Homo sapiens: one gene and its partners. The protein of the gene in region 2 interacts with the protein of the main gene of each other region in a biochemical or structural test. Each region holds a gene or a part of one and is shown on either strand. Other genes may lie near its edges.

Region 1 (7,024 bases), on a different chromosome or scaffold from region 2:
CACCCAATCACTGGATTGTTAAAACAAGAGCAGAAAGTACATAGTGATAGAAAACAAGGCATGGCGTGTGCCTGGGTGAAGCTTAGAGGCTAACAGAAGAGATGATAAGTGAGCAAACTTCCAAAGGATCACTATTAAAGACTCCACAGGCATCATCACGGTGTATGGAAGTTAGGGGGATACTGGGAAAATACTGTTTTTTAAGGTTAAAGTTTTAAAAGAACTTCCATTTCTTAAGCACCTAGTAGTGCCAGGAATTGCACCAGGAATTTTATTCCAAACAAAAATCTGGTAAGGTAGGAGATGGTATCTCAACCTTGCAAGTGACACCATGAAGACTCAGACAGGTGCAGTAAGATGTCCAAGGTCACACCAACAGTAAGAGGCACGACCATGATTTAAATCTCATGCTAACCATCCTTTACTTTCTCCTACTTTATACTGTTGGATGATTTTTTTTAATGGATAGGATTTTGGTGGAAAAAACAGGGCTGGATGTCAATCTGAATTGAGAATCTCCAGCCCTGTGCCCTGCTGGAAGGATGGAATAAGCACATTCCAGCCTATCTGGGTATAAGCAACAGATATTCATTTTGAACATCAAAAAAGCTCACAGGCCACTATCTTGTGGGTCCTTTAATCCATCTGCCTCCAGAAATAGATATACTCTCACCTATACATGAACTCTATTTCTCTGAGAGGCAAATAAAAAAAAAAAGAAACCCTGCTGTAAAGAGGTGAACTGAAATTCTATAGATGACTCAGAGAGTAGCTTCTCTGGCTAAGGCCATACTTACCTACTTCTCAATTCGTTAAGAAAAAATAAATAAAAGACCAAACAAAACAGCCATCTCATTTATGAATTAAACTGAAAATAAATTTGCATTTTATTGATACAAAAGTACAAACTATACTGTTTTTCATTTTTAAAAAAGTTATATCTAGTTTATATCTCTTTTCTTTCCTTTTGGTGTTGCTAATTCAATTTGGACAGATGGCTAAGATTCTACCTTCTTGAAAGACCCCAAATTTAATAATGTAACTGGTTCATTTAAAGTAAAATGTTCCGAAATTAGTCCACATTCTGTTTCCTTCTTAAACAGAATATACTGTATGCATATAACTACCTCTCAATGGTCACCTGCTGGCCTATAACAGAAAATTCTTCTTAGAGGCTTCTGGGATGTGATTCTATAACAAATAGTCCCAGACTGCTATGCATTTTGAAGTCCTAAATATGTCCTGTACATTCATTGCCCTCATTATGCACTTCCTAGCTGTCACTTGCACCTGCTATTAGTTGTCTGCTGGAGAGAACAGACTCCCCCTCTATGACCTCTAGCTTTGGATCCGGCGTGGGTTTACACCCAGATAACCAAATTAATTAGAATGTGATGTAAAAGAGGAATCAATCAGGGTCCTTCTCTTTATACTTCATCTGTACCTGCTGAAATCCAGTCACACCAGGCCTATCTCAAATGCAACCACCTTCAAGGGAGATTTCCCCGTACCCTAGACTAGATGCATACTCTCCCTTCTCCCAAAACCCTGAATACTTTAAATCCTTGTTGTGATTCTTCTGACAAACTCCCTTGTAGAATGTGCACCTCCTTACTGCATCTTGCCTTCTGTGTGATTTAAACCCCTTGTATTCACACTCTTCTGTAAATCCCACCCTCAAGAGAAGACTGGACCTAGCAACTGGCTTCAACAGAAGATGCCAAAATGATGGCAGGTCATCTTCAGGAGGAGAATAGGTGACAAAAGGATCATCCTCTCTTGCTCTTTCTTGGAGTTCTTGCTCTGAGGGAATAAAGCTGCTTTGTCATGAGTAGCCCTCAGAAGAGGCCCACATGGCAGGAAACAGATGCATCCAACAACCACGTGGGTGAGCTTGGAAGTGAATTCTCCTCCAGTTGAGCCTTCGTGTGAGACTGCAGCCCCAGCCTCCACTTGACAGCAGCCTTGTAAGAGACCTTGAGCTGGAAGCATCTGGCTGAGCCATGCCCAGATTCCTGACCCACAGCAATTATGAGACAATAAACGTGTGCTGTTTTAAAATGCTAAGTTTAAAACAATCTGCTACAGTTATAGATAACTAATACAATCCCACAAGAGCTAAAATAGCATACTTACCATCTTTATATCCCTTGCAGCACCTAGTCCAGACCCTTTCACATAAAAGAATTTAACAAATGTTTACTGAATTAAGAGAATGCCAGTCTTTATCCCCAAGAAGTTTACAGTCTAATGGAGGAGGGGGGGGATATCAGACATTTAACAAGTCACCCCACAAATACATGTAGACTAACAACTGTGATAAGACTTGTGCAAGTGATGGGTGAACTGAGACCTGAAGGAAGAGCAAGAGTGAGTGAAGCAAGGAGGAAGAAAGGCCCGTTCCAGTCAGAGCACATATAAAGGCCCCGGGGCAGGTGTAAGCATGAAAGCAAACCAGGTGACTGAGGTACAGGAGGACAGGTATGTGAGGTGGGCTGCACGATGAGGCGGGACTGCACCACGCTGAGGGTTCTGACTGTCAGCCAGGGTAATCAGGAGCCATCGACACATTTGGTTGGGGAGGGGTGTGTGTATAAAGGGTTGACTTGGCCACAGCTGCATTTCTGGAAGATCATTCTGCCTGCCTTATGCAGAATGGATTACAGGGCAGGAAGCATGAAAGGAGGCAGACTTATGAGACGGCTAATTACAGCAGTCCAGACAAAATAGCCTAGTAGTGGACTGTAATGGTTATGGTGGAAATAGAAGTAAACATATGAAAGAGCTATTCAAGAATAAAGGTGAACCGGCCTTGAGACAGGTTTGCACATGGGGCCACGACAAGAGCGGTGTGAAAAGGGACTCCTGCATGTCTGCTGTGTTCCTGAGAGTAGTGGTAGGATTGTGGGCTGAGGCCAAGGGCACTGAAGGAAGACCTGGAGTCTTCTCCCAATGGGGAAGTGGATAAGCTTTCAATCAAGGAGACTGTGTCATCTGTTTCACTGACTCTTTCCTTAAGGGGCATTTCTGTTCATCTCCTGGTTCTCTGCTGTATCCCAGACAGGAGAAATATTACAGCAAACCCACTAGCTTCAGAATCTACTTAATGCACACAGTAATGTATGAATTTCTGCCCATGAGGCCAATCCAACCAATGTTACACATACAACTAGAAAAAGCAACTTAATTATAACCATGAAAGTGGTCGCCTTCTGGTTCCTCCATTCACAAGCAAGGCAATGTCTGCTGGTGGACATTAAATGGCCTCTGCTTCCCATTAACAATGATGGGAACATTTATTACATACCTCCTATATGCCAGGTACTTTGTGGGCTCCTGTGCATACATTATCTCTAATCTTGCCAGCAAAATACTGTAAAATTTCTATAAAGGAGGAAGCTCAGAGCAGCAAAGTAACTTCCCAAGGTAACAGCATGGTAAGTTGAAGGGAGGATTGGAAGCCAGGTCTGCTAGACTAAAACCTGTATTCCTCCTCTCACACAGCCTCTTCATTTCAGTAGGACCTTCATTACGGGCTGCTTTACCCAGTCAGCTGGCTCACCCACATACTCAATCCCCTTCAGTTGTTGAGACAGCTGAAAATACCAGATCAATAACTTTGACTGTTTTCCTCCTGTTCTGTAACCAACTGACACTGATTAGGGCAGGAACCCCAATTAACCAAGCCCGCAGCTCAGGAGGTGAGAACCTGTGCACCTTAAATCAGACGAGCACAACATGTTTTCCATGATGAGTGGGCAACAGTTACCACCCAGGGCTGCTCCACAGAGGGAATGAACTGGAGACTTCACATGTGTTCAATTTCTTGAAAGAAAATGCTGTGCCTTTTTAGAGCACGCTTTTAGAAAGTAGTGAAGTAGAAAGAATCTAGGAAAAACTGGTCTCTGCAGATGTCATGATGAGCTTAAAATAATGAGGTTTCCAGGTGTATAAACATATGAAGAGCTGCTTTCGGGGTGGACTGCAGGCTCTGGGCTTCTTTGAATCCCACACAGAGGTCTACACAGCAGAGAACCCCAGGGATGCTTCTGTTACAGGCGGAGGATGGAGAGGCCCCCAAAACACCATGCTCAGAGAAGGGGCAGCACACAACCACTACCCCACAACCCCAAAGCTTTAGCCACAGTGCTTCCCTCACCATTTGTCAATCATTCCAGATGGCCGCACCCACAACCCCGTAAAAGAACCAGGGTCTATTTCAACCATAATAATAATGCAATCACAAATTCAAGAGCACAGCACCTCCCTCCCCACCCCACTTCCTATGCCTCCCTGATGGTACGGGGTACACTGGACAATGCTAGGTCATTCTATTATCCCGATGTGAGTGAGTGGCCATCCCTTGACTTCATCCTCCAAAACATACCCTTCTCATTAACCTCCCATTGCTATTATGAAAAAGAGAATACAGGATATTGCAAGGACAGAAAAAGGGGTCTCGGAGTTAAATGTCTTCAGTGGGCCTGGCACTGGGATGAACAGAAGAGACAAAAGGGCGAGCAAGAACAGAACCCCTGCCCTCCTGGCACCTACTTGGTTAAGCTGTGAGACCCTAGCCCAGTTGGGTTGTTTAAGCCTAAATTTTCTCATCTATACAATGTGGATCATAACAATCCTACATCAGAAGGGAGGTGACGAAATGACATGAGATAAACAGCAAATACAAGGAACAAAGAGCCCCTGTTCAGTGGCTGTCATCACTGTTATCGCCATTTACCACTCTACTGCCCTACCCCAGGCATCTTGTAGGAAAAGGCTGCTTCGTGGAGCATCTTCCCACCTTTGTGCCGTCAAGAATCTGTTCCCTTCTCCTGCCATGTACCCTGTATTTTGAATGATGTTGTCAATCTCACTGCATTAAGTATTCATTGTTTCCCTATTTTATTCATCTAAGACATAAGCATGATTAATATTTAAAAAGTAATGTAGAAAAAGCAGTAAAACAGACTTTATCAAAATTTAAAAATTTGTTTGTCATAGGGCACTATCAAAAAAGTAAAACATCAACTCTCAGAATAGGAGAACATATTTTCAAGTCAAGTATCTGATAAGGCCTTACTATCTAGAGTAAATAAAGAATGCCTAAAAGTCAACCATAGAAAGAAAAGTGACCTAATTTTAAAAATAGGCAAAGGATGTGAATAGAAAGAAGAGATAAATGACCAATGCACTCATGAAAAGATGCTCAACATGACTAGTCATCAGGGAAATGCAAACCAAAGCCACAATGAGATACCACCTCACATGCACTAGTATTGCTATAATAAAAAAGACAGACGTAACAAGTGTTATCGAGGATACAGAGAACCTAGAACCCTCACATACTACTGGTCAGAACGTAAAATGGGGGACCCACTGTGGAAAACAGTTTTTGCAGTTCCTCGAAAAATACGGTAAGCAATATGACCCAGCAATTCTAAGAATTGGAATAGACTCAAGAAAATCATATTAGAAATTAGAAATATATCCAAGAAACCTGAAAATATATGTTCACATAAAAACTTGTATATAACATTTGTAGAAATATTATCCATAAAAATCAAAAGTAGAAACAAGCCAAAAGTCGAACAAATAGAAAAGGTGATAGATAAAATATAGTCTATTCATACAATGGAATATTATTTAGCCATAAAAGGAATGAAGTATGGATACACACTAAAACATGGATGAAACATGAAAACATGCTAAGTGAAAAAAGCCAGACACAAAAGGCTACAAACTGCACGTTTCCATTGATACAAACTGTCCGGAATAGGCAAATCTACAGAGACAGAAAGTAGATGAGTGGTTTCCAGGGCATGGGAGAAAGGAGAATGAAGTTACTATTTCATGTGGGTGAGGTTTCTCCTTGGGGTGATGAAGATGTTCTGGAATTCAGTAGTGATGATGCTTGCACAATCTTGTGAATATATTAAAAATCACTGAATTGTACATTTTAAAAGGGTGACATTTATGGTATGTGAAATCAATCTGTCTCAATTATATATACAATATGTAGTAACATATATATGTATTATAAACTGAGTGAGATACATTAACTGAGTGAATTATATCTGCGGCCAACAAATATGACATGCTGATGACAACAAAGTTTAGCTGGAAAAGCCCAAGATGTGATGTTTGGATTCTGGGTCTGCCCCTTGGCTAAGTCTGTGTCCACGATCAGTTCAGTGAGTCCCTCTCCCCATGGTCTTCATCCATAAGATGAGAGGGTATCATTACACGGTCATAAAGATCAAATGGGATAATGTATGTAAAATGATGAGCAAATTGCGCGCTGCAGTCAAGTTTTTATGCACGCTAGTTACCATCCTCAGCTCCCTGATGGAAGGAAGGAGAAAGCCAATATTCCATTCTGAGTGAGAAGGAGCCACAGCCCAGCTTGCCCTTCCCTCTGGCCGCCACCCCTTACCTCAGGTGTCAGGGCATTGTTATCCGAGGTCTGACTGGACAGCAGGATGTGCGTGAACCCTTCTTCCTTCCGCACAACGATGTCTCGAAACCGACAGTTGCTTTCATTCTGGCGGACACTGTATCTGAGCCTTTTGTCAAAGACGTAGTCCTTCTCCGCTTCCAGCTTCCTCTTCACTGGACTGTGCAGGTTCAATCCCCCGTTGGTCAGAGCAGAGCCTTCCAAAACCAGATAAACAATGTAAGAAACTGAAATGGACCACGATCCTAGAAGGATGTGATCAGAGGACGTTGGGATTTCCAATGGAAAGGTTTGGATGTGCTGGGACACACCACCTTCTCCCCTGTGCCACCCTCTGTTCTAGGAAGAGGGAAGGTGAAGAGACAGGCTGAATTCCTGCATCTCCAAATTCAGAAGGGGACCTAGAGGGCTCTTTGTGAAGGCCCTGTGCGGTCCTCTACTCTCTTCTCCCATATATCAGCTTCTGCTCAGATTCCTTGGCCACAGGGAATCCACTGACCACCCTGAGAGGCAGCCCTCTCCACTGGTGGATGCCTATGAATCATAGGAAATTATCAATAAGAGCAAGAC
Region 2 (7,219 bases):
ACCAGCCTGGGCAACAGAAATGGTTTTCTTTGACTTTCCCTTCCTTTGCACAGAAATCTTCTTCAACCCATGGGGTCCCCTTTCGTTTTCTGGAATCAGTACTCTCTGTCCCGCACCACACGCCTCTAAGTCTCCACTACTCTCTACAGCCTTGGCCGCCACATGTTGGCACCACAACTCAAACTCAATTTTGGAATCAAAAAACTCAGTAGGCCGGCACTGTGGCTCACGCCTGTACTCCCAGCACTTTGGAAGGCTGAGACAGGCGGATCACGAGGTCAGGAGTTCAAGACCAGCCTGGCCCGCATGGTGAAACCCCATCTCTACTAAAAATGCAAAAAATTAGCCAGGCATGGTGGTGCCAGCCTGTAATCCCAACTACTCAGGAGGCTGAGGCAGGAGAATCACTTGATCCCAGGAGGCAGAGGTTGCAGTGAGCTGAGACTGCACCACTGGACTCCAGCCTGGGCGACAGAGCGAGACCCCGTCTTAAAAAAAAAAAAAAAAAAAAAAAAACAAACAAAAAAGAAACTCAGCAATTTCCAAACAGAGTTTCTCAGGGCCAGTTGGGGAGCAGGAAGTAAGCAATGCTTCAACCAAACAGTTCACACAGAAAGCAGGTTAGGGACTTAGCCACCAAAATCCTGAGGGCAAAGGAGAAAACTATTACGATCCCTCCTGAGTGCTCAACTGCCTAGGTACTTGACATTCTCAATTATACTGACTCTCCACAACAACTCTGTTACAGAAACTAAGGCACAGAGGGGTTTTCAAAGGAACTTAACCTGCATCTATAGTACGTTCCACCCCAGGTCGGCCTGCTCCACAGCTCACCTCTTAACCACCAGACTGAGTTGCAAGGGAAGGAGAAATACATAAGCGTTTACTGGGAAGCCTACTCTATGCCTGACAGGCTGATCACATTCTCAAATACCCTCAATCCTCAAGTCAGCCCTCCAAGACAGGTGAGATCATCCCCACTTTATAGATGAAGGTAATGAGGACAGAGGAACATAGCTGGGGTTCAGGCAAGGCTTCAAAACCCGGTGTGGCTGGCTCCAAAGCCCACGTTCCTTTCTCCTTACCACGGTACTCAAGGCTGGCTTCTCAACTCTGTGTACTGCTGAGTTGGGGGGAACAAACTGGTTGATGCCTCTGGAGGACCACCTGGCGTCTCTATCGGAACGGCAACCCCACTTCTGTGTATTTGGCCCACAGAGACCCTCACAGGTGGACCAAGTGAGGCACAAAGTTACCTGCTGCAGCACTAACTGTAATGAGAGAAGACTGGAAACTGGTGGAATGTCTACCCTTAGGGAACTGGTTCCCTCATTACTGGAATACCATATGGTAGAATATTGTTCAGGGTTAAAATTAAATGAATGATGGATAAAAGGTATAGGAGTTTTTTGGGGGGATGATAAAAATATCCTAAAATCGATTATGGTAATAACTGCACAACTCAGCGCATACACTGAAAACCACTGACTTGTACACTTTAAATGGGCACTTTAAATACACTGAAATACACTTTAAATACACTGAAAACCGCTGACTTGTACATTTTAAATGGGCAAAATTGTACACTTTAAATGGGCAAACTGTATAATTGTGAATTATATCTCAATAAAGCGGTTACCAAAATGAAGAGATAATGACAGGAAAAATATCAAGTAAGGATGAAACAGTACTCAGTAATAAAAAGAAACGAAGCACTGATACAAGCAACAACTTGGGTGGACCTCCAGGGCATTGTGCAGAGTAGAAAAAAGGTAACATCCTAATAATATATGATTCCATTTACATAACAATCTCCGAATGACAAAACTAGAGATGGTGAACACATTAGCGGTTGCCAGGGGCCTGGGGAGGAGTTCTTATGTGGAGAGGGAACTGTTCTATATCACAATTACGATGGGGGTTACACAAATCTATACAAGGAATCAAGCTGCACGGGCACACAGATGCACAATCACACTCACACCACACAAACTGGTGAAAACTGAACAAGGTCTGTAATCTAGTTAACAGAACTGTATTGATGTCAATTTCCTGGTTTCGATATTGGGACTACATAAGATGTCACCATTAGGGGAAGATGGATATACTCTTTTCACAACTTCCTTGAATCTATAATTATTTCAAAATAAAAAGTAAAAACAAGAGGTAAGCTCCATCCCTTTATCAAGCATACATTAGGCCAGACGTCTCCCCATTCAGATGATTCTCCATCTTTTACGAGCCCTTTACCTAGACCTGGACCTTACCACTGACCTCTCCCTGACACCACCCATCTCCCTCCAGTAGGGCCCACTCCTTCCAGGTGATGCTGCTGCCCGCGATTTACCTTCTTCTAGCCCCGCCCCCTCAGCACTTCCAGGTGGCCCCCGCCCCCTCAGCACTTCCGGTTCCCAGCCAGCCCCACCCTTGGCACCTCCCCCTTCCAGGTGGCCCCGCCCACACGCAATCTTTTCCCCGGCCCCGCCCCTTAGCTCCCTTCAGCCCCTCCCCCTCCCAGATAGCCCCGCCCCCTCGGGGGGCCTTCCGATTTCCAGCTGGCCCCGCCCACACAGTTTTCCCCCCCCCGGCCCCGCCCCTCAGTTCCATTTGGCCTCTCCCCTTTCCAGGTGAACTCGCACCTCAAGGCCTCTTCTCAGAGGACCTGTCCAACTGTCTCTGTCTCTCGTCTACCCTCTACCTGGCCCCCCTCCCTCTGGGAGACACCTCTCTGCACTCTCCGGCGGCCCGCAGCCCGCGCTCTTCCGTCTCCACCGCGCTCTCGGCAGCCTCAGCGTCCCCACGCCCACTCCTCTGCAGACACCCCGACATGGCGAAGCATAGGCCCCAAGCATTCGGCGCACCCGCCGCCCTCCGCCTCCCATCTGCTTGCGGACGGCCCCACTTGCCTTGCGTTGGTCCCGCGCGCCGCTGCCCGGGCAACACACTCAGATCCGCCAGGCGCGCCTCTGCAGTCCCAAGTTCGCGCCACGGCATTCGCGCGCAGACGTCTGCGGGCGGGGGCGGGGCAGAGCCTAGGGGCGGGACCTGGGCACCGTCCGCACCGCCGCCGTCGCGCGGAGGACACTGGGAGTCGTAGTCTCCCGAATGGGAGGAGGGCGGGAAAAGGGGTGAAGTGGGGCGAGCCCTCCCGCAGAGCACACTGGGAAAATGCCCGCGCTTTCCCTCGCCCTGGATGAGCGGGTGTGGCTGAGGGTCTGAGGAGTGACTGGCAGGGAAAGAGGAGGAATCGGTGGAAGCGCCCCCGCGAGGCACGGCGGGAAGAGAGGCGGGAGACCGCGCGGGGCATCCCGGGAGCAAGGGCCGGGCCAGGCCTGGGCGCGGGGCATTGTGGGAGGTGGACGCCGCTCCGGGGCGGGTAGGTGAGTGGGGAGGGGCGGGAAGGGTGCACATCTTGGGGAGGGGAGAGGCACAGCTAGGTGGGACGGCGGGGCTGGAAGGTGCCGCAGCGGGCGGGGAGGGGGGGAGTAGGAGGGTCGGGAGCGGGCTGGATGGGGCTGCTCGAGGGGAGACGCGCAGCTGGACGTGGGGGGAGCATCTGGGGTGAAGGAGCCCATCCGAGGACGAGGGGCCATGTCTAGAACGAAGATGCATATTGCGGGGGATGGTGGATGTAACTGGGAGGAGGGGCCCACAGCTGGACTGGGGGCCGCATCTGAGGAGGAGGGGACCACAGGTGAATACTGGTGACACTTCCGAGGAGAACTAGCCACAAGTGGGGCACACACCTGTAGGCGAAGCGTGGATAACTGCATGTGGGGAGTACATCTGGAGATGAGAGTGTCTCAGGGAAGCCCCAGCTACAGCTGCATGTGGCGAGCCATAGGGTCATAATCGGGGGAAGGGGCAACAGCTGCACGCCAGAGGCACATCTGGGGAGTGCGGAGCCACAGGTGCATGAAGCATGTGACCGGGTGAGGGGTCCGTGGCCTGGATGTGGGAGCACATCTGGAGATGGAGCGTCTTTGGAGGGGTTACAGCCAACTGTTGGCACATGGAAGGAGGAGTTCCAGATGAATACGAGAGTTAGAAGTTACTCTTGGGTGAGAGACACAGCTGGAAGGGGAGGAGGTTTTAGCTGGAATTTGAGAACACATTTGAGGAGATGTCCTTAAGGGACATCTGAGCTTAAGGGTCGTATTTTGGGAGGAGAGATTCCAACTGTACCTAAGGGTCACATCTGCGGAGGAGGAGACGAGTTGGAATTAGGAATCAAGATGACAGGCTCCAAGTGAACCAGGGATAAGGCGGTGGGAGGAGGCCAAAGATAGGATGGAGGTTGATATTTATATATTTGGAGAAAAACAGGCACGTCCGACCCCGGGCTACCCACCTCGATAGAGGCACCAGCAACCGACGGGGCAGGCCAAGAATGGAGTAGATGAGATACCCCGGGTGGGAATGGGTCTGATATCCACCTGTTCTCCCCTCCTCCACGCAGGCCCCCAGGATGGAGCGGCCGGAGCCCCCACCCGGCACGGCTGCGGGGCAGGAGGAGCAGGAGCTGCGGGAGCGGGCCTTCTTCTCGTGGGCCGAGTTCAGCCGCTTCTTCGACGCGTGGTGCCAGCAGCGGCTGGCGCTCTTCTTCGTCAAGAGCTCCATGCACCTGGCGCGCTGCCGCTGGGCCAGTGCGCCCCCGCTCTACACGCTCATCGACGTGCTCAAGTACAGCTACGTGCGGCTTGTGTGCAAGGACGTGCGTGCGCCCAGCCGGCCCGCCGTGGGGTGCGTGAACCTGAGCCGCTGTCCTGCTGGGGGGAAGGGGAGCACCGGGGGTGGGTGTGGGTGGGAGACGGGCAGAGAACACCCCACCCAGAGATGCAGAGGGGGAGAGGCCAACTGAGGCAGCCAAATACACCTTGCAGAGAGGCGGGAGTCAAGGAGGGACATGTACTGAGAGAAGAAGAGGAGCTAGAGAGACAAAGATACTCACGGAGCAAGAGATGGTGTGGGCCCGACTTACAGACTTTTTTTTTTTTTTCGAGATGGAGTCTCGCTCTGTCGCCCAGGCTTGAGTGCAGTGGTGCCATCTGCAGCCTCCACCTCCTAGGTTCAAGTGATTCTCCCGCCTCAGCCTCCCGAGTAGCTAGGACTACAGGCACCTGCCATCATGCCCGGCTAATTTTTGTGTGGTTTTTTGTTTTTGTTTTTGTTTTGTTTTGCTTTGTGTTGTTTTTTTGAGACAGAGTCTTGCTCTGTCACTCAGGCTGGAGTGCAATGGCACAATCTCGGCTCACTGCAACCTCCACCTCCCGAGTTCAAGCGTTGTTTCTCCTGCCTCAACCTCCTGAGTAGCTGGGATTACAGGCACGCGCCACCACGCCTGGCCAATTTTTGGATTTTTGTAGAGATGGGGTTTCACCATGTTGGCCAGGCTGGTCTCAAACTCATGACCTCAGGTGATCTGCCCGTCTTGCCTCCCAAAGTGCTGGGATTACAGCCGCGAGCCACTGTGCCCGGCCTGACTTACAGAATGTAATAGAGACTTCGAGAGGCAGAGCGTAAAACACACACACCCCAAGAGGAGAAAATAGTCACGGAAAATTCCAGAAACATGGAGACATGGAGGCAGAGACACCAGAGACAGCCAGGGAAACAGAAGAGCCAGGTTTTGTACACGTGACAAAGACTGGGAGACAGAGACTGGGAGACTGAACTGCAGAGAAGCCGCAGGATAAAGAAAAGGATCCATCTATTCAGTGAATAAGGGGCCAGGTCCCATGCTGTGGGCTGGGGATATTCTAGTTGGAGCGATGGAGTTGGGCAAGAGACAAAAATCCCTGCCCTTCTGGTACTTTCTGACTGGACAGAAAGATTGACGTTAAAAGAACAAGCTCACAGGTAGTTCCCTACAACTGTGCAAAGAGGGGCAGGTGAGAAATCCAGGAGAGCCAGAATCACACCCAGGTGGCCAGGGGTATTTTAATGGACCCCAATTGTATTTTATTTAGTCTTTATTTTTTTGAGACAGGGTCTTACTCTGTTGCCCAGGCTGGAGAGCAGTAGTGCGATCTTGGCTCCCTGCAACCTCCAACTCCTGGGTTCAAGAGATTCCCCCACCTCAGCCTCCCAAGTAGCTGGGACTACAGGTGTGTGCCACTATGCCCACCTAATTTTTGTATTTGTAGTAGAGATGGGGTGTCACCATGTTGGCCAGGCTGGTCTCGAACTCCTGACCTCAAGGAGGCTGAGGTGATCTGCCCACCTCGGCCTCCCAGAATGCTGGGATTACAGGCATGAGCCACCACACCCAGCCAAATTGACCCCAATTTTATTTTACTTTATTTTATTTTATTTTATTTGAGACGGAGTCTTGCTCTGCCATCCACACTGGAGTGCAGTGGCACAATCTCCACTCACTGCAACCTCAGCCTCCTGGGCTCAAGCAATTCTCCTGCCTTAGCCTCCCCAGTAGCTGGGATTACAGGCATGCGCCACCATGCCCAGCTAATTTTTGTATTTTTAGGGTTTCACCATGTTGGCCAGGCTGGTCTTGAACTCCCGACCTCAGGTGATCTGCCTGCCTTGGCCTCCCAAAGTGCTGGGATTACAGGTGTGAGCCACGGTGCCTGGTCTGACCCCAGTTTTAAACAGGGGTTGTTCCCCACACAGTTAGGTTTCCAGCTTCCACTGGAACACCGGAAGAGGTGAGCCCATGTTTCCATTGGCAGACGGCCACCCCTCTTGGATGGGGCTTTGCTGCCCAGGTTTGCCCCAAACCCTGCCACTCTCTGCTGCCTCATCCCTAGCACTGTCTTTTGCTTGTTTTGCCTGCCTGGTCCCAGTAGGTGTGTGAGTTTGAGACCCTTGGTTGGGGAGCTGTAGACAAGAACAGAGTGCTTAAGAACACAGGCTCTGCCTTTAGGCTGCCTGAGACATGCTCCACGACTTCCTGGATGGGTGACTTTGGGCAATGGACTTCACATCTCCAAGCCTCAGTTTTCTCATCCTTTGAAATGGGGTTATCACGATACCCGCCTCATGGGGCCATTGTGAGGATACTGTGAGATCATACATGAGAAAAACACATAACCCTGGTGCCTGGAACATGGGGTGGCTGGTTAAGTGATAGCTGTTACAGGATTCGAGAGCATGGACTCTGGGCCATTGTGCTGCTGATGCTTGGTGGATGCTGTTGAGTGAGTGACTTCACCTTTCTGTGGCCTCAGTTTCCTCATGTGGAAAATGGGAGACATAATAG
Region 3 (7,024 bases), on a different chromosome or scaffold from region 2:
GTCTCGGGAACTGAAGAAGGCGATGCGTGGAAATCGCAGGTCTTGGTGCAGCATGAAGACCCGGACGGGAATGATGTTGGGGTCACACAGGTGGTTGATGAAGCGGCTGATGTTGCCATAGTAACGGGCATCTATGCAGTACACCTCTCCATCCTGGGGCAGGGGGATGGCACTCTTCACATCTCCCCCGACCCTGCTTGCCCTCCCCACCCACTGACTCCCCAGTCCCTCCTCCCCAGGTTTCCATTTGCTGACTTCCCAGAGGCTCCTGAAAGCCAGCCCTGGGGAGCAGCAGGGTAAGGAGGGTCTCCTGCTCACCTTGTTGTCTAAGTCGAAGAGGTAAGAATCATCCTCTCTCACATCAGCCTCAGCATCAGAGATCAGCTCCCCGACATACCTGTGGGACAGGAATCCATGGTTCTGAAGGTGAGTGTGGGCTATTAGGAGGTGGCTCCAGGCCCCATCTCTCTTCACAAGCCTGTGGAATCTGGAATGGGCAGGGCTGGCAGGTGTGGGGAAGGGAAGGCCTGGAGCAGCAGTGGTGGGCAAGTGAAAGGGCAGCATTCCAGCCTTGACAGAGGAAGCCTTCAGTCAGCACAGAGACAGACAACAAGCTCTGTGGTTAAGGGGATTAATGTGTAGGGGCAGTTGGCCTGGGTGGGGAAGTTCGGGTTTGGACACAGAGAGGTTTGTGTTCCAGGAGCCACCCGGCAGGAATGGGCGATATGGAACAGGAGAGGGGCCAGGACTGCAGGAAGAGCCAGAGGTACAGGAGTGGCAAGGAACTCAAGGCATGATTCGGGGCAAGAGCACCCACACATATCTGGACACCAGAGGGAGGAGAGGAGCCAGCTATCTAAGGAGGGTGAGCAGACATGGGAGATTCAGACACACGGAGAGGACGTGGGTGGGAAGTGACTGTCAAGAGACAGCTTCAGCAGAGTGGGAAGGGCAAAGGCCGATTTTGGCAGGGACAGGCAGTGAGTGGATGGTGGGGAAACTGAGGCCCAGCAGGAAGGGGCTGCTTGCCAGAGAAGTTGAGAGATGACATGATGGAAAGAAACTGGATGGTCTGTTGAACAGGCAAGTATGGTTAGAGGACTATCTTTTTTAAAGGCCAAAGAATGGTCAGGCACGGTGGCTCACGCCTGTAATCCCAGCACTTTGGGAGGCCGAGGTGGGCGGATCATCTGAGGTCAGGAGTTGGAGACCAGCCTGGCTAACATGGTGAAACTCCGTTTCTACTAAAAATACAAAAAATTAGCCGGGTGTGGTGGTGCGCACCTGTAATCCCAGCTACTTGGGAGGCTGAGGCAGGAGAATCGCTTGAACCTGGGAGGTGGAGACTGCAGTGAGCCAAGATTGTGCCATTGCACTCCAGCTTGGGCAACAAGAGTGAAACTCCGTCTCAAAAAATAAATTAAAAAAAAAAAAAAAAAAGAGCCAAAGGAGACTAAAGTAAGATTGAGGGTTGTGGGATGGCAGCCAAGAGAAAGGGGGAGATTACAGATGCTGGGCAGAGAAAGAACTGATGGAGAGGGACAGGCCCCTGAGGAGGTGGACAGATAGGTAGCTGTTATCACCTCCACTCTACAGACAAGAAAAATAAGGCTCAAAGAGGTTAAGTAACTTGGCCAAGAACATCCAGAAGCAGAGAGGGGCTCAAACCCAAGTCTGTTTGTCTCCCAAACTGGCACTTTCTCCAGCTAGGAAGGGCGAGGAGGGGGTGGAGGGGAAGGTAGAGGGTGGAGGTGGAGGGGAGGGAAGACAAGCTCTGTGGTCTGGGCAGAGTGGAGGCAGGTGCCATTCTCAGCTGGGGGGATGGGGGTCAGAGGCGGCTGGCTGCTCAGCTGCAGGAATAGGGGTCAGAGGAGGCTGGCTGGAGAGTGGCCAGATGGAGACATGTGACTCATCAGGGCAGATGGCTGAGAGGGAGGCCTGGCAGTCAGCAGTGGCCATGTATCCCCTTCCCACCAGGTGTTAAGGTGCTCCCGGTGACTTACTCGCAGATGAAGGTCCCCTGTGGGATGGTCTGCAGGGCGCGGACCCCCCAGCCCATCTTGGCTGTTCGGTAGAGCTGTAGCCGCACCCTGGGGGTAGGAGAGATGGCGCTGTTGGGTGGAGGCCCTGGAAAAGCCCCAGGGGCAGGGAGGAAAGGGTGAGGTGGGGAGAGGGTGGGCTGTGGAGCAGGGCCTCACTTGATGCCACTCTGTACGACCCGGTTCTTGCAGTTTCTCCAGCATGAGCACGCCTGGTTACACTCGAAAATCAGCGGAGGCTCAATCTTGTTAAATTCCTGGAGCAATCGCCCATCCTAGGGTGCGGAGGGGAGGATAGTGGTTTCTCTGTGGGGCCCACCTCAGCTGCCCACCCAGGAACCCCAAGACTCTACAGAGACAGGGAAGTTGGGGTTGGGGAGGTCACACAGGCTCTGAGATCCGAGAGCACGAAATGCAGGAGCATCATCCCTGGTTTGCATAGACCTGGGCACACGCCCATCGCTGTCCCAGCCACATCCCAGGATTCCCAGGCCTTGCCCAGTCCTCTCAGTCACTTCCCCCACAGGGTAGGAGGTGAGGGACATGGTCCCAGGGAGCTGGTTTATTGGAGGCTGGCTCCTCTGAAGGAGGGGCCGGGTGTCTGTGGCCAAGGCAAGGGGCACGCACCTTGTCATACCAGCACCGGATGCTGAGCTGGCCGCACAGGCAGTTGGAGCTAGAGCAGTCGTCCACACACGTGCAGTGCTGGGGCGAGGAGGCAGAGGTCAGCTCAACCCCATGATCGGTCTGGGCCCCTCTACTCTTGATGCCCCCTGACCCCCTAACCACTGTCCTTTCTTTGGGGTCCATGTGTTACAACAGTGGGTGGTGATGGTCCTAGGGTGACGGGTAATCAGTATGGTGGTGTCCCCAGGGCTACTGGGAGCTCATATGATACCTTGCTGTGACCTAGGAAAAGGATCCCTCCCCTGGTGGGGATGCGACCCCACACCAGGGCTCCCTTTCAGCCAACCCTTCCTTGGCCAGGTGCCTTTGCTGGTTTGAAGCTTGTCCAACTGTACTTGGCAGCTCTCGGTGTCCTTTTGGGGAGGCCCCGGGCCCCCTACTCACCTGCAGGTGGGTGATGTTGCGATCGATGTTCATGGTGGACGTCTCGCAGTTCTCTGAGATGTACTTGTAATCCTCAGGGCAGGGCTCCCCATCCACACCGTTGACACAGGGAATGGGCACGTTCTCATAGCCCCGAGCCACGTCCCTGCAGAAGACGGGAAGAAGGGGCTGGGAAGCTGGAAAAGGGGGTGAGGAGCTACTCCAGGTATAAGGAAGAGAGTTGGGGAGGTTCCTGGGGCTGGGGGCAGGGGAGTAAGGTTGCCAGGTAAGATGCAGGACAGCGAGTTAACATAGAATTTTAGATAAACAAGAAATAGCTTTTTAGTATGTCCCAAAAATTACACAGGACATTCTCACACTAAAAAAGTATGCATCTGTGCATCTGAAATTCCAGTTTAACTGGGTGTCTTCTATTTTTATTTGCTGTATCTGGCAACCCTAGTGGGGAGGGGGCCTGTGGGTGGTTCTGGGGATTCAGTGGTGCATGGGGAGGGGTTGGGGAATGTTGTGAGGATGCAATGGAGCCTGGGGAGGGTATGGGTGGGGAGGAGGTGGTCTTGGGTGCAGAGAGGGGCCCAGGGCTCACCGGCAGATGATCTTCTCTGTGCGGATGGCCCGATTTCCCACCCCAAGTCGGAGCTTGCGGTTGAGTTGAAGCGCAAACCACACGTCGGAGCGCTCGGGAGTCAGGTCCCATGCTGTGTCCCCCTCTTTGTTCCGCAGCTCAGGGTTGGCCCCACGTGACAGGAATAACCTGAAGAGGGGACAGGATGCCCAATGCAGGGTCTGAGGCTGCAAGAAGTGGGGGCAGGGGCATCAAGGGCGGGGCAGGGGCTCACAGCACGCAGTCATGGTAGCTCTCCCGAGCTGCGATGTGCAGGGGGGTGTCCCCATGGTAGTTGACAGCATGGAGGTCACAGCGCGCATTCAGAAGGACTTCGGCGATGGCGGCGCTGCCCGTGAAGGAGGCCCAGTGCAGGCAGATGTTCTCCTCCTGTGGAGGTAGGAGGGGAACAGATGAGGTGCAGGCAGCTGGGCCCTTGAATCCAGCCTCCACCTTGCTCAGGGGCCTGGGGCTGCCCTACCTCAACCAAACGCTCACTCACGTTGTCAGTGAGGGTGACGTCGGCGCCCCGCGTCAGTAGCATGCGGATCACCTCGATGTGCTTGTGCTCTGCAGCCCAGATGATGGGCGTCCACCCCCCACTGTCCTGTGGGTGGGAAGGGAGTGAGGGTGGGGGCAGCTGGCCCTGCTCACCAAAGCAGCAAATGGTCAAGATTGGCTGTGTGTGTGAATCCCAGCTCCACCATTCACAAGCTGTGGGACCCTGGGTAAGTCACTTAACGTCTCTGGGTCGCAGTTTCTTCATCTAAAAAATGGGACTAGTAGGGTCGGGCGCGGTGGCTCATGCCTGTAATCCCAGCACTTTGGGAGGCCGAGGCGGGCGGATCACGAGGTCAGGAGATGGAGGCCATTGTGGCCAACACGGTGAAACCCTGTCTCTACTAAAAAATAGAAAAAATTAGCTGGGCGTGGTGGCAGGCGCCTGTAGTCCCAGCTACTAGGGAGGCTGAGGCAGAATGGCGTGAACCCGGGAGGCGGAGCTTGCAGTGAGCCAAGATCGTGCCACTGCACTCCAGCCTGGGCGACAGAGCAAGACTCCGTCTCAAAAAACAAACAAACAAAAATGGGACTAGTAGCGTCTACCATCTGATGCCAGAGAGAAAATAAAGTAATTGTTCTCTTTCCAAAAAATACAGCCAGGAGCTGGTCATGGAGGTGCATGCCTGTAGTCCCAGCTACTCATGTGACTGAGATGGGAGGGTTGCTTGAGCCCAGGATTTCGAGGCTGCAGAGAGCTATGACTGTCTGTGAACTGCTACTGTACTTCAGCCTGGGTGACATAGCAAGACCCTGTCTCTTAAAAGAAAAAACGAACAAAAATTTCCTAAGTCTGCCCACTCAAAAGTCCTAGAAGCAGCGACAACCCAATAACAATAAACACTCCTAGGAACATAGATTGTATTCTCTAAAAAATGCTTCTGGCCGGGCGCTGTGGCTCACGAGGTCAGGAGTTCAAGATCAGCCTGGCCAATATGGTGAAACCCCGTCTCTACTAAAAATACAAAAATTAGCCGGGCATGGTGGTGGGCGCCTGTAATCCCAGCTACTCGGGAGGCTGAGGCAGGAGAATGGCGTGAACCTGGGAGGCGGAGCTTGCAGTAAGCTGTGATCACGCCATTGCACTCCAGCCTGGGCAACAGAGTGAGACTCCGTCTCAAAAAAAAAAAAAAAAGTTTCCCATAAAGGAAGCAGAGTTTCTTAGAGAAATGGTGGATTCTGAGTTGGGGGCAGGAAATGTGCTGAAAGGTCAGGAGGCTCTCAAAGGCCACTGGGCCACTGGGTCATGTCACAGCCACAGAGGCCTCTTAAAGGGGCTTCTTCTGGACAATGATGGAATAATTCAAAGACTGAGAAGAATGCCAATAAATGACTAAAACACATCCAATGTATGACAACCCAAGAGTTAATAAAAAGCCTCACTGGACACTTTCAGAGATTAAGACAGGAACTGATTATTCTGAAACTTGATAAAGAGAAAGAAACGAGAAAGAAAAGAATGAAGAGAAATACAAATGAGGAAGAAGAAAGCAATGAGGACAGACACGAGCAGTGTGAGGTCAGATGTAGGAAAGGCGGCCCAAAGCCTGAGGCCAAGCCAAGGAACCCAGGCACCAGGGACCCAGAGGGGCTGGGCTGGGTGGGCCGCTGACCTGGGCGTTGACGTCCACCTGTCCTGTGCTCAGCAGCAGGCTGACCATCTCCAAGTTCCCGATTTTGGCTGCGTGGTGGAGGCAGGTGGAACCGTCCTCCTCCTGAGGGAGACACGGGCAAATGAGCCTTTGGGCTGGCACCCCAAACCTGGTCCCTGACTCCGGGGGCCACGCCCTGCTGCCTGCGCGCACACCTTGCTATAGACACAGCCACCACGCTGCACCATGTAACGGGCTACCTCCAGGTGGTTGTTCACCACGGCCTCCATCAGTGGCGTCCGCTGCTGTTTGTCCACTGCATTTATGTTGGCTCCAGCCTGTGAGGGGGCAGGAGGGCTGGCACCAGGGAGGCATGGGGCAGGGGAGGGGCCTAAGGGCCTGGTGAATGAGGCATGGGGCCGGGCCCGTGCTGACCTGCAGCAGCACATGGCAGATCTCCACGGAGCCCTTCTGGGCGGCTGCATGCAGGGGCGTGCGCTTGCTCTGCTGGTCGCTCTGGAAGTTGGGGTCCAGGTTGTCCACTGCGGGGAGAGCCCGCCACACCGGGAGAGGGAGGGACAAGTGGTAAGCAAGCTAGGGGGCAGGTGGCACTTCTTTCAGGAAGGCTTCTCAGGGCCCCAAGCTGGATCAGGGCCCCTCCTGGCATTCTCCGAGCTTGCCTCCACCACAGCATTTATCAGAATAAGGAGTCAAAGGCATCAGCTCTGCCTGAATTCAAACCCTGCCTTGCTTCTCAGTACCACTGTGCACTGTGCAAGGTCCCTAACCTCTCTGTGCAAGCCAAGGCTAACAGGTATAAGCACTCAGAACAGGACCCAGCACCTATGAGTCACCACATCCCCATCGTTATGGGTTACATGTGTCTTTTCCCCACCACACTAAGTCCTTCAGGGCAAGGACTGTGTCCTTCACGACTGTACTCCTGGCCCTGTACCCAGTGCCTGGTATATACATGAAGCTTGGTCAAGGTCTGCTGAAGGAATGGGTGGCACTCACACAGCATCAGGATCACCTTCTGCAGCTCGCCCTGCTTCACGGACAGGTACAACTGCCGAGGGTGGAAACGGAGCTTCTTCCGCCTGCCAAGGGAGCACGGGAGCGGGGAGAGAAGGGGAGCTCCTCAGATTCCAGCATCAGCC
Region 4 (7,024 bases), on a different chromosome or scaffold from region 2:
GTGAGCCACCATGCCCGGCCCAAAATTTTAATTTAATCAAATTTGCACGTCCTTTTTTCAAATCTTTCAAAAGCATTATCCTATCCTATGACTATACCCCTGCTTGGAAATGAATATAATTTTTAAAAATACATGAAAGAAAAGTGCCTCCAAGTGTTAATATGTTGAGTGTAGGTTGATATAATTCTGGATGACCTTTTCCCTATTTTTATTCTTTACTGTGATTATGCTACTTTTATAATTATGTTATTTTTACAATGAAACAAACAAAACATGAAACGAAGTGCCTTCCAGAGTTGAGATGGGCGCTAGGTTCCCATCCGGTGACCTGTGGCACCCTTTCCACCTGGCCCTGCTGCGGACGGCCACGCATGCTCCAGAGCCTCTCCCCGGGCACATGGGCTGCAGCTGCTGTGGCCCAGCCCCAGCACTGTGAGCCAGCAGGAAGCCTGCACTGAGCTCTGGCTTGTGTCTGTTCAGGAGGAGAACATTTGCCTGCACTGGGCGGCGTTCTCCGGCTGCGTGGACATAGCCGAGATCCTGCTGGCTGCCAAGTGCGACCTCCACGCCGTGAACATCCACGGAGACTCGCCACTGCACATTGCCGCCCGGGAGAACCGCTACGACTGTGTCGTGTGAGTGCAGTGCTTCCCCCAGCGCGGGCTGGCGCTGACCTGACCTGGGCGCCCAGAGAGACCGCTTGACAGTCTTGTGTTCACACTTGGGGCGTGAGTGGACACAGGCCCTCTGTTCCTTCGTGTGGAAGTCCATCCTTGGTGTTCCACACGCAGAGAAGTGTCTTTCCCAGTCCACGTTTGAGATCAGCTGTGGTTTATTTCTGGGTTAGGGAGGATTGTCATGAAAAAATTCCCAAGTTGGAGTCTCAGACCTGATACTCCTCACATGGCTGAGGGGCAGCATGGGAACAGCCCTGCTCCCAGCAGGGACCTGCCAGCTCAGAGTCCCCGAGAGGCTCAGGGTGCCTTCTGGGAGCAGTGCCACCCACAGCCAGGGCTGGAGTTGCTGGGGGCTGTGGCACTCGCCACTCAGGGCCCTTTTAAAACTTGAGACCTTCAGCTGGGTGGTGGTGGCTCACGCCTGTAATCCCAGCACTTTGGGAGGCTGAGGCAGGCAGATCACCTGAGGTCAGGAGTTTGAGACTAGCCTGGCCAACATGGTGAAACCCCATCTCTACTAAAATACAAAAATTAGCCGGCCATGGTGGCATGTGCCTGTAACCCCAGCTACTCCAGAGGCTGAGGCAGGCGAATCGCTTGAACCCAGGAGGCAAGAGATTGCAGTGAGTGGAGATTGCGACGCTACACTCCAACCTGGGCGACAGAGTGAGATTCTGTCTCAAAAAAAACCCAAAAAACAAAAAAAGCTTGAGACCTTGATCCCATAAAGTCATCCACACTCAGGTTGTTGTTGGTGGCCTGGGATGGAGTGTGTGTTTGGCTGCTGGGGAAGGACAGGGAACTGTGGGTGCTCCAGGCACCAGCCTCCAGTGACTCCCTGGCCCCTACACATGGGGCTGTGCCCTCCCACATGTGGATCTCACGGTGGCTCAGCCAGGTTGGTCATCTGGTTGTGTGAAGCCCAGCTCCACGTACGATGACTGCAGTCTGGATGCAGTGAGCAGGAGTGGAACTGAGGACTGCTCACGCTGTGCGTGGCCCAAGCTTGGCCTCTCTCCCTCCTTGCTTCCCTTCTTATCCTTGAGGGTAAATTTGAATGAAAAATCCAAGAAAAATCAAATGCCGCCCTGGATTTTACACTCTTCCTGCTAAGAAAACAGCCTGCTGACTTTGACAGTGAATGTGGGAGAGGAGGAAGGGAATCATGTTCCTGGGTGAGCTAAAGCCCGTCTTTGCAGAGTCATTGCTGAGCAGACTTGTTCAAGTTATCTCACAGTGAATAGTGTTCCCTTTATTGTTAGTGATGACGGACATTTTATAAATCTCATCTGTATCACATTTTCAAGTCAGCTTTAAATGTTTTGTGGCCTTACATTTTCCCTTTTAGCCTCTTTCTTTCTCGGGATTCAGATGTCACCTTAAAGAACAAGGAAGGAGAGACGCCCCTGCAGTGTGCGAGCCTCAACTCTCAGGTGTGGAGCGCTCTGCAGATGAGCAAGGCTCTGCAGGACTCGGCCCCCGACAGGCCCAGCCCCGTGGAGAGGATAGTGAGCAGGTGAGCCCAGCCCCAGGACGGCTTTGTGGCAAATCAGCGGTCAGCAGGGCTTTGGGAACTTGCGGTGAAAGCTGCTCCTGAAGCCGAAACATCCCCAGGCTGCAGTCCAAATTGTCAGGGCCAGGTGTTTGCCAGCCGCCCCACTGCACGCTGTGCCACCCCCTGGGCAGAGCACGTCAGCCACCAGGTGACACCTGTCCTTTCCATGGCAGGGACATCGCTCGAGGCTACGAGCGCATCCCCATCCCCTGTGTCAACGCCGTGGACAGCGAGCCATGCCCCAGCAACTACAAGTACGTCTCTCAGAACTGCGTGACGTCCCCCATGAACATCGACAGAAATATCACTCATCTGCAGGTGAGTGACGGCAGATGAAGGGCTGACTCAGGCCAGGACATGGGACAGGCAGAAGCTTCTTGAGCCTGGGGTCCTGGGTTCTCACCACTCAGAGCAGGAGGGCTTATGGGGGGCTTCCCAGGAAGACCTCATTCTCTTTGTAGTTGCCTCCCGTGAAAGAGCTGGAAGGCAGATAAAGGTTCTGTCAGGCCCAGCCCTGGGCCCTCTCATTGCTCTTCCAAGGCTTCTTACCGACCCAAAGCAGTGGCAGGCATCTTTGTGCCTTTTTTGTAACCTCACACTCAGGGGCCCCGGTGTGGCTTCGTGCTGGGGGCACAGGCGAGAGGAGCCCTTGCGAGGCCTGCAGGACGACCTGGATCCCTGCACCTCCCAGCCCCCGGAGAGATGGGTCCAGCACATGCCAGCTTTCCCAGCCTCCGAGTGCATGCAGCCTGGTGCCCTCACTGCTTGCGCCTTCTCGAGCACTTTCCTTGTGGCTCTGCTTGTGGGCAGCTCCCTCCTCTTCCCAGGCCGGGCACTGCCCAGGCCCCCCCCCCCCCCCGCCCCCCGCCCCACAAGGTGTGTCAGGCTCTGTGTTCTTGCCTTTCCCATCGAGCATCTGGCCACAAATGCAGCCGCCGCCCAGCCCTTCACCCACCCCACGTCACCCACTGCCGCGTCGCTGCCCTGCCTGCCCCCTGTCCCTCTGTCAGGGTCCTCAGCCAGAGCTCCCTCCCACAGGCACTCGACATGTTTCTGCCTGCACAGCCTTCTCCCTAAGAGGCCACACACTCACGTGGTGCCTTTGAGAAGCACTTACCAGAATCAGGGTTAACAGAACTGGAAGACGTAGTTGTGACTGGGAGGGGAAATGGAAGGCCTGTGCCTGCACGTCTGACCCCCCGGCGCCTCTCTTCTCAGTACTGCGTGTGCATCGACGACTGCTCCTCCAGCAACTGCATGTGCGGCCAGCTCAGCATGCGCTGCTGGTACGACAAGGTGAGGGCGGCCTCGTGTGCGTGGGCTCAGGTGGTAAGTGCCGCTGGTCCGGGTCTGCAAAAACAGTGCAGGCGTCTGTGACCCCAGCGCTGTCGTGGCAGCGTCGGGAAGGAGTTGGAGGTGAGCTGGGTGTGACAGGCAGGGGAGGCACAGCGGGCACCAGCACCCGAGTCAGGGTCGTGAGCCGAGGACATGGCTGCGGATTCCCTGGGGCTGGGGTCTGCATCCTTTGTGGCTGCCTGGATGGTGGCGGGGGTGGGCAGCGTCAGCCTGGCTTGGCCCCAGGAGGAGGTGCTGCTTATGTTGTGTGTATCTGGTAAGCTGTGCCTTGTGCTTGCTGAGTGTGAGGGGTGTGAAGAGGGAGGGTGCTGCCGGGCTGGGTACAGGGAGCATCAGTGTGGGCGCTGGGCTTGAGGAGACACAGGATTGGAAGTTTCTGTTGGGTGCTGGTCCTCGGAGGAGCCCAGGTTGGAGGCTGCTGAGGAGGAGACGGGAGTGGGGAGTAGCCCTGGCTAGCAGGGGTGCAATTCAGGGGAGGGATGTCTAAGCAGAGGCGGAGAGTTCCTGGTCTCCCGAGTTCAGAGGTCACGGTGGGGGCGGAAGCCAGCATGGCCTGGGTAAAGAGACGCGAGCAGGGAGAGGCAACAGGCGTCCCCTCTGGAAGCAGACTTTGGAGGAGAGTGGACATGGAGGGTCAAGTGTTTACCCATCTGAATTAGAGGCTCCAATGGGAAAAGGATTCGTGCCAGTGAGGGCTATGGAGATGGTACGCTCAGAAAGCCACCAAGCTCATGTCCGAGTGGTGTCTTTTCAGGTGGACAGTGTTGCTGAGGGGGCGCAGGAAGGAATGTTCTGAGGAGCGCCCTAATTGTTCAGAGCAGCCCCTGAAGCCGTCAAGCCAGAGTGTGCCTGGGCAGCCCTGGGCCCCGCGCCTCAGCTCACACAGCCCTGGGGGAGCATCTGCACCCAGTGCTGCTGTACCTGGCCTGGCTTCAGGGGGGTAGAAAGGGGAGCAGAGGGCTGGGTCCCTCCACAGTTGAGGATTTGCAAGGCAAGGAGGCCAGGAGTGCAGGAGGGTGCAGGAGGCCCCAACCAGCTGAAGAAAGCAGAGCAACCCAGGAGCTGGCAGCCTCGGTGAGGCTGGAGAAGCCCAGGCTGGGGGCTGGGAAGGCCCTGGGTGGACAGAAGCTGGCCCCAGGCTGGGCCTAGGGGAGCGCTCCAGGGGGTCTCCACAACCTGTGTGGGCATCTGGGTGGAGGCTTCTCATCCAAACCGTACACATGGAGTTTTTCCCTAGGTGGGTGTTCAAGTTTGGCCAGAAACCATCGTTTTTATGTCCGTTTAAGCCACACTGGGCACTTAGTAGAAATGGGTTGATGTCAGTTCAATTAAAGAGTGAGTAACCTCTGCTGGGCCCTTGCTGCTCATCTGTCCACAGGATGGCCGGCTCCTGCCAGAGTTCAACATGGCGGAGCCTCCCTTGATCTTCGAATGCAACCACGCGTGCTCCTGCTGGAGGAACTGCCGAAATCGCGTCGTACAGAATGGTCTCAGGTGAGAGGCAGCTTCCTGCCGGAGCCCCACATTCTGCTCGTATTAGCACGTATTAGCACGGAGGTCACCCCGACAGACAAGAACTTAACGTGTTTGGATGCACGCACATGTGTGTTTGCAGATAGAGCCGACAAGTTACCTGAGCCCTTTATCCTCTAGAAATGTCACTTGTGCCATAAATCACGAGTCATGCTTCCCCCAGCACAGACTTCGGCATGAGAGAAGGAGCAGGTTGTTGGGTCAGTCCAGCTAAAAGCAGAGGAACGGACTTGGCCTAAGAATTACCTTTGTTACCGAGTTCATGCGAACATTCTTCAACAGGTTAGGGCTGTCGTAGTTCTATTTTAATACTCCAGTCATTTTCTAAATATTCTCTGTTCTCTGGGCTTCCCTAACAGTGAGGTGATGTCCCAACGCTTCTCAGGCTGCGTGGACTCCTTGTTCCTGGGTTGCTCAGGACGCTCATGGAGTAAGGCTTGCCCAGCGCCCTTCCCCAGCTGGGCTTGGTCCCCTGACCGCCCAGCAGCTGCGTCTCCTTTCCCTGGATTCTGGTCTTGAGCATTTCCTCCGCAAATGTGCCCGAGATTGGAGAAGTCAAAGCTCCTCTGAGTCATAAGGGAAAGTTATGCACACTTAAATTTAGCTGAACACTCATTTTTATAGTATTGACTTTTTTGTGACCTCGATAAACTTGGTTCATGGTGAAAGGCAGTCTCTGTCCTTGGTATGGTAGAAAGGCCTGGTGGTGAGGACCCACGCCAGACAGACGCGAGGCAGACACGGGACACATGCCAGATGGGCAGACGCGAGGCACGTGGTTCTGAGGGCTCCTCAGAGGCCCACATGCCAGGACCGCCCAGCCGCCCTCCTCCAGATCTACCCGGCCACCCTCCCCCAGGCCTGCCCAACCACCTTCCCCCAGCCCTGAGAAACCCTCGACCGCCACCTCCCCTGCCACCCTCCCCCAGCCCTGAGGGGCCTGTGGGCTCCTTGTCGGGAGCAGGCTGGGCTGCAGGTGTCACCACAGCCTGGTCCAGCTATAGGCTTCTCTAGTATTAGCACCTCTGCCCCTCACAGTGCCTAGTGGCCCAGGCCCAGCTCTGTCCCCATGTTACAGATGGGGACACCGAGCCACGGCCAGGACCAGTGACTTGCCGAGGTTGTGGGCTGGGGTGCTCCTGGCTGATCCCCGGGTTCTTGGCTCCCTGAGAGTGCGAGATGCCGTGTCTGTGAGGTGCCTGCAGCATCGAACGCTTCGGATACAGAACCAGTTTTCTTCCTCATTTCAGTGACGTGGCACCAGCTGGCTTTTGCTGACCATTGTGGCAACAGGCTGAGGCTGTGGCCTGGGTTCACCACTACTCTCTATTTTTCAGGGCAAGGCTGCAGCTCTACCGGACGCGGGACATGGGCTGGGGCGTGCGGTCCCTGCAGGACATCCCACCAGGCACCTTTGTCTGCGAGTGAGTGAGTCCCTGGGTCACCCCAAGCCTGGTGTCATTTCTGGGACGGAGGCCCATCTGTGTCTGTACTTCAGGAAGCCCCTCTGGGAGCAGGCACATCCCTGGCGTACAGCAGCGTGGGGTGGGGGCCACAGAGACCCTGGCCCCGAGAACCAAGCTCGTGCTGTCCTCAGTCCTCTTGCTGCTGCCCGTAACCAGCCCAGGAGTGCATTTAAGAAGGCGTGGTCCAGTTAGGAAGGCGTGGTCCAGTTAGGAAGGCGTGGTCCAGCATGGGCAGTCATCTCTAGGGGAGGACCATTCTGGGTTCTCAGGTACCAGACCGCAGACGCAGAGCTTTCGGTATCGTTATCATCATCCTCCGGACCCTCAGCTGAAACCCCAGTTCAACCCTGGGCACACCTCTCTAAACATGTTCCCTGCATGTTCTTCTGGTGTGCCCTGCTCTTTCCCTGTGGCTGCGGAGTCTGGGCTGTGCTTGT

Evidence for each region.
Region 1: the proteins of LIG1 (region 2) and CDYL2 interact in a test that uses a peptide from one of them, tested with the Homo sapiens proteins (one study listed by BioGRID).
Region 3: of the proteins of LIG1 (region 2) and EHMT2, one has a biochemical effect on the other in vitro, tested with the Homo sapiens proteins (3 studies listed by BioGRID).
Region 4: of the proteins of LIG1 (region 2) and EHMT1, one has a biochemical effect on the other in vitro, tested with the Homo sapiens proteins (one study listed by BioGRID).

The regions. Positions count from the first base shown.
Region 1 is NC_000016.10:80,626,586-80,633,609, forward strand, and holds part of CDYL2 (chromodomain Y-like protein 2), read right to left. Parts: intron 6,652-7,024; coding exon 6,434-6,651; intron 1-6,433.
Region 2 is NC_000019.10:48,167,335-48,174,553, forward strand, and holds the start of LIG1 (DNA ligase 1), read right to left. Parts: upstream 3,011-7,219; 5' UTR 2,907-3,010; intron 1-2,906. Other genes in the region: uncharacterized protein ZSWIM9, read left to right, coding at 3,623-3,694, 4,460-4,743.
Region 3 is NC_000006.12:31,880,696-31,887,719, forward strand, and holds part of EHMT2 (histone-lysine N-methyltransferase EHMT2), read right to left. Parts: intron 6,965-7,024; coding exon 6,882-6,964; intron 6,407-6,881; coding exon 6,300-6,406; intron 6,203-6,299; coding exon 6,080-6,202; intron 5,988-6,079; coding exon 5,886-5,987; intron 4,361-5,885; coding exon of another isoform or gene 4,322-4,360; coding exon 4,217-4,321; coding exon of another isoform or gene 4,196-4,216; intron 4,105-4,195; coding exon 3,950-4,104; intron 3,865-3,949; coding exon 3,697-3,864; intron 3,510-3,696; exon of another isoform or gene 3,256-3,509; coding exon 3,111-3,255; exon of another isoform or gene 2,745-3,110; coding exon 2,667-2,744; exon of another isoform or gene 2,315-2,666; coding exon 2,199-2,314; exon of another isoform or gene 2,091-2,198; coding exon 2,004-2,090; exon of another isoform or gene 1,978-2,003; intron 866-1,977; exon of another isoform or gene 701-865; intron 427-700; exon of another isoform or gene 398-426; coding exon 319-397; intron 154-318; coding exon 1-153. UniProt on the Homo sapiens protein: Histone methyltransferase that specifically mono- and dimethylates 'Lys-9' of histone H3 (H3K9me1 and H3K9me2, respectively) in euchromatin.
Region 4 is NC_000009.12:137,810,981-137,818,004, forward strand, and holds part of EHMT1 (histone-lysine N-methyltransferase EHMT1), read left to right. Parts: intron 1-480; coding exon 481-635; intron 636-2,025; coding exon 2,026-2,193; intron 2,194-2,405; coding exon 2,406-2,550; intron 2,551-3,450; coding exon 3,451-3,528; intron 3,529-4,966; coding exon 4,967-5,082; intron 5,083-6,458; coding exon 6,459-6,545; intron 6,546-7,024. UniProt on the Homo sapiens protein: Histone methyltransferase that specifically mono- and dimethylates 'Lys-9' of histone H3 (H3K9me1 and H3K9me2, respectively) in euchromatin.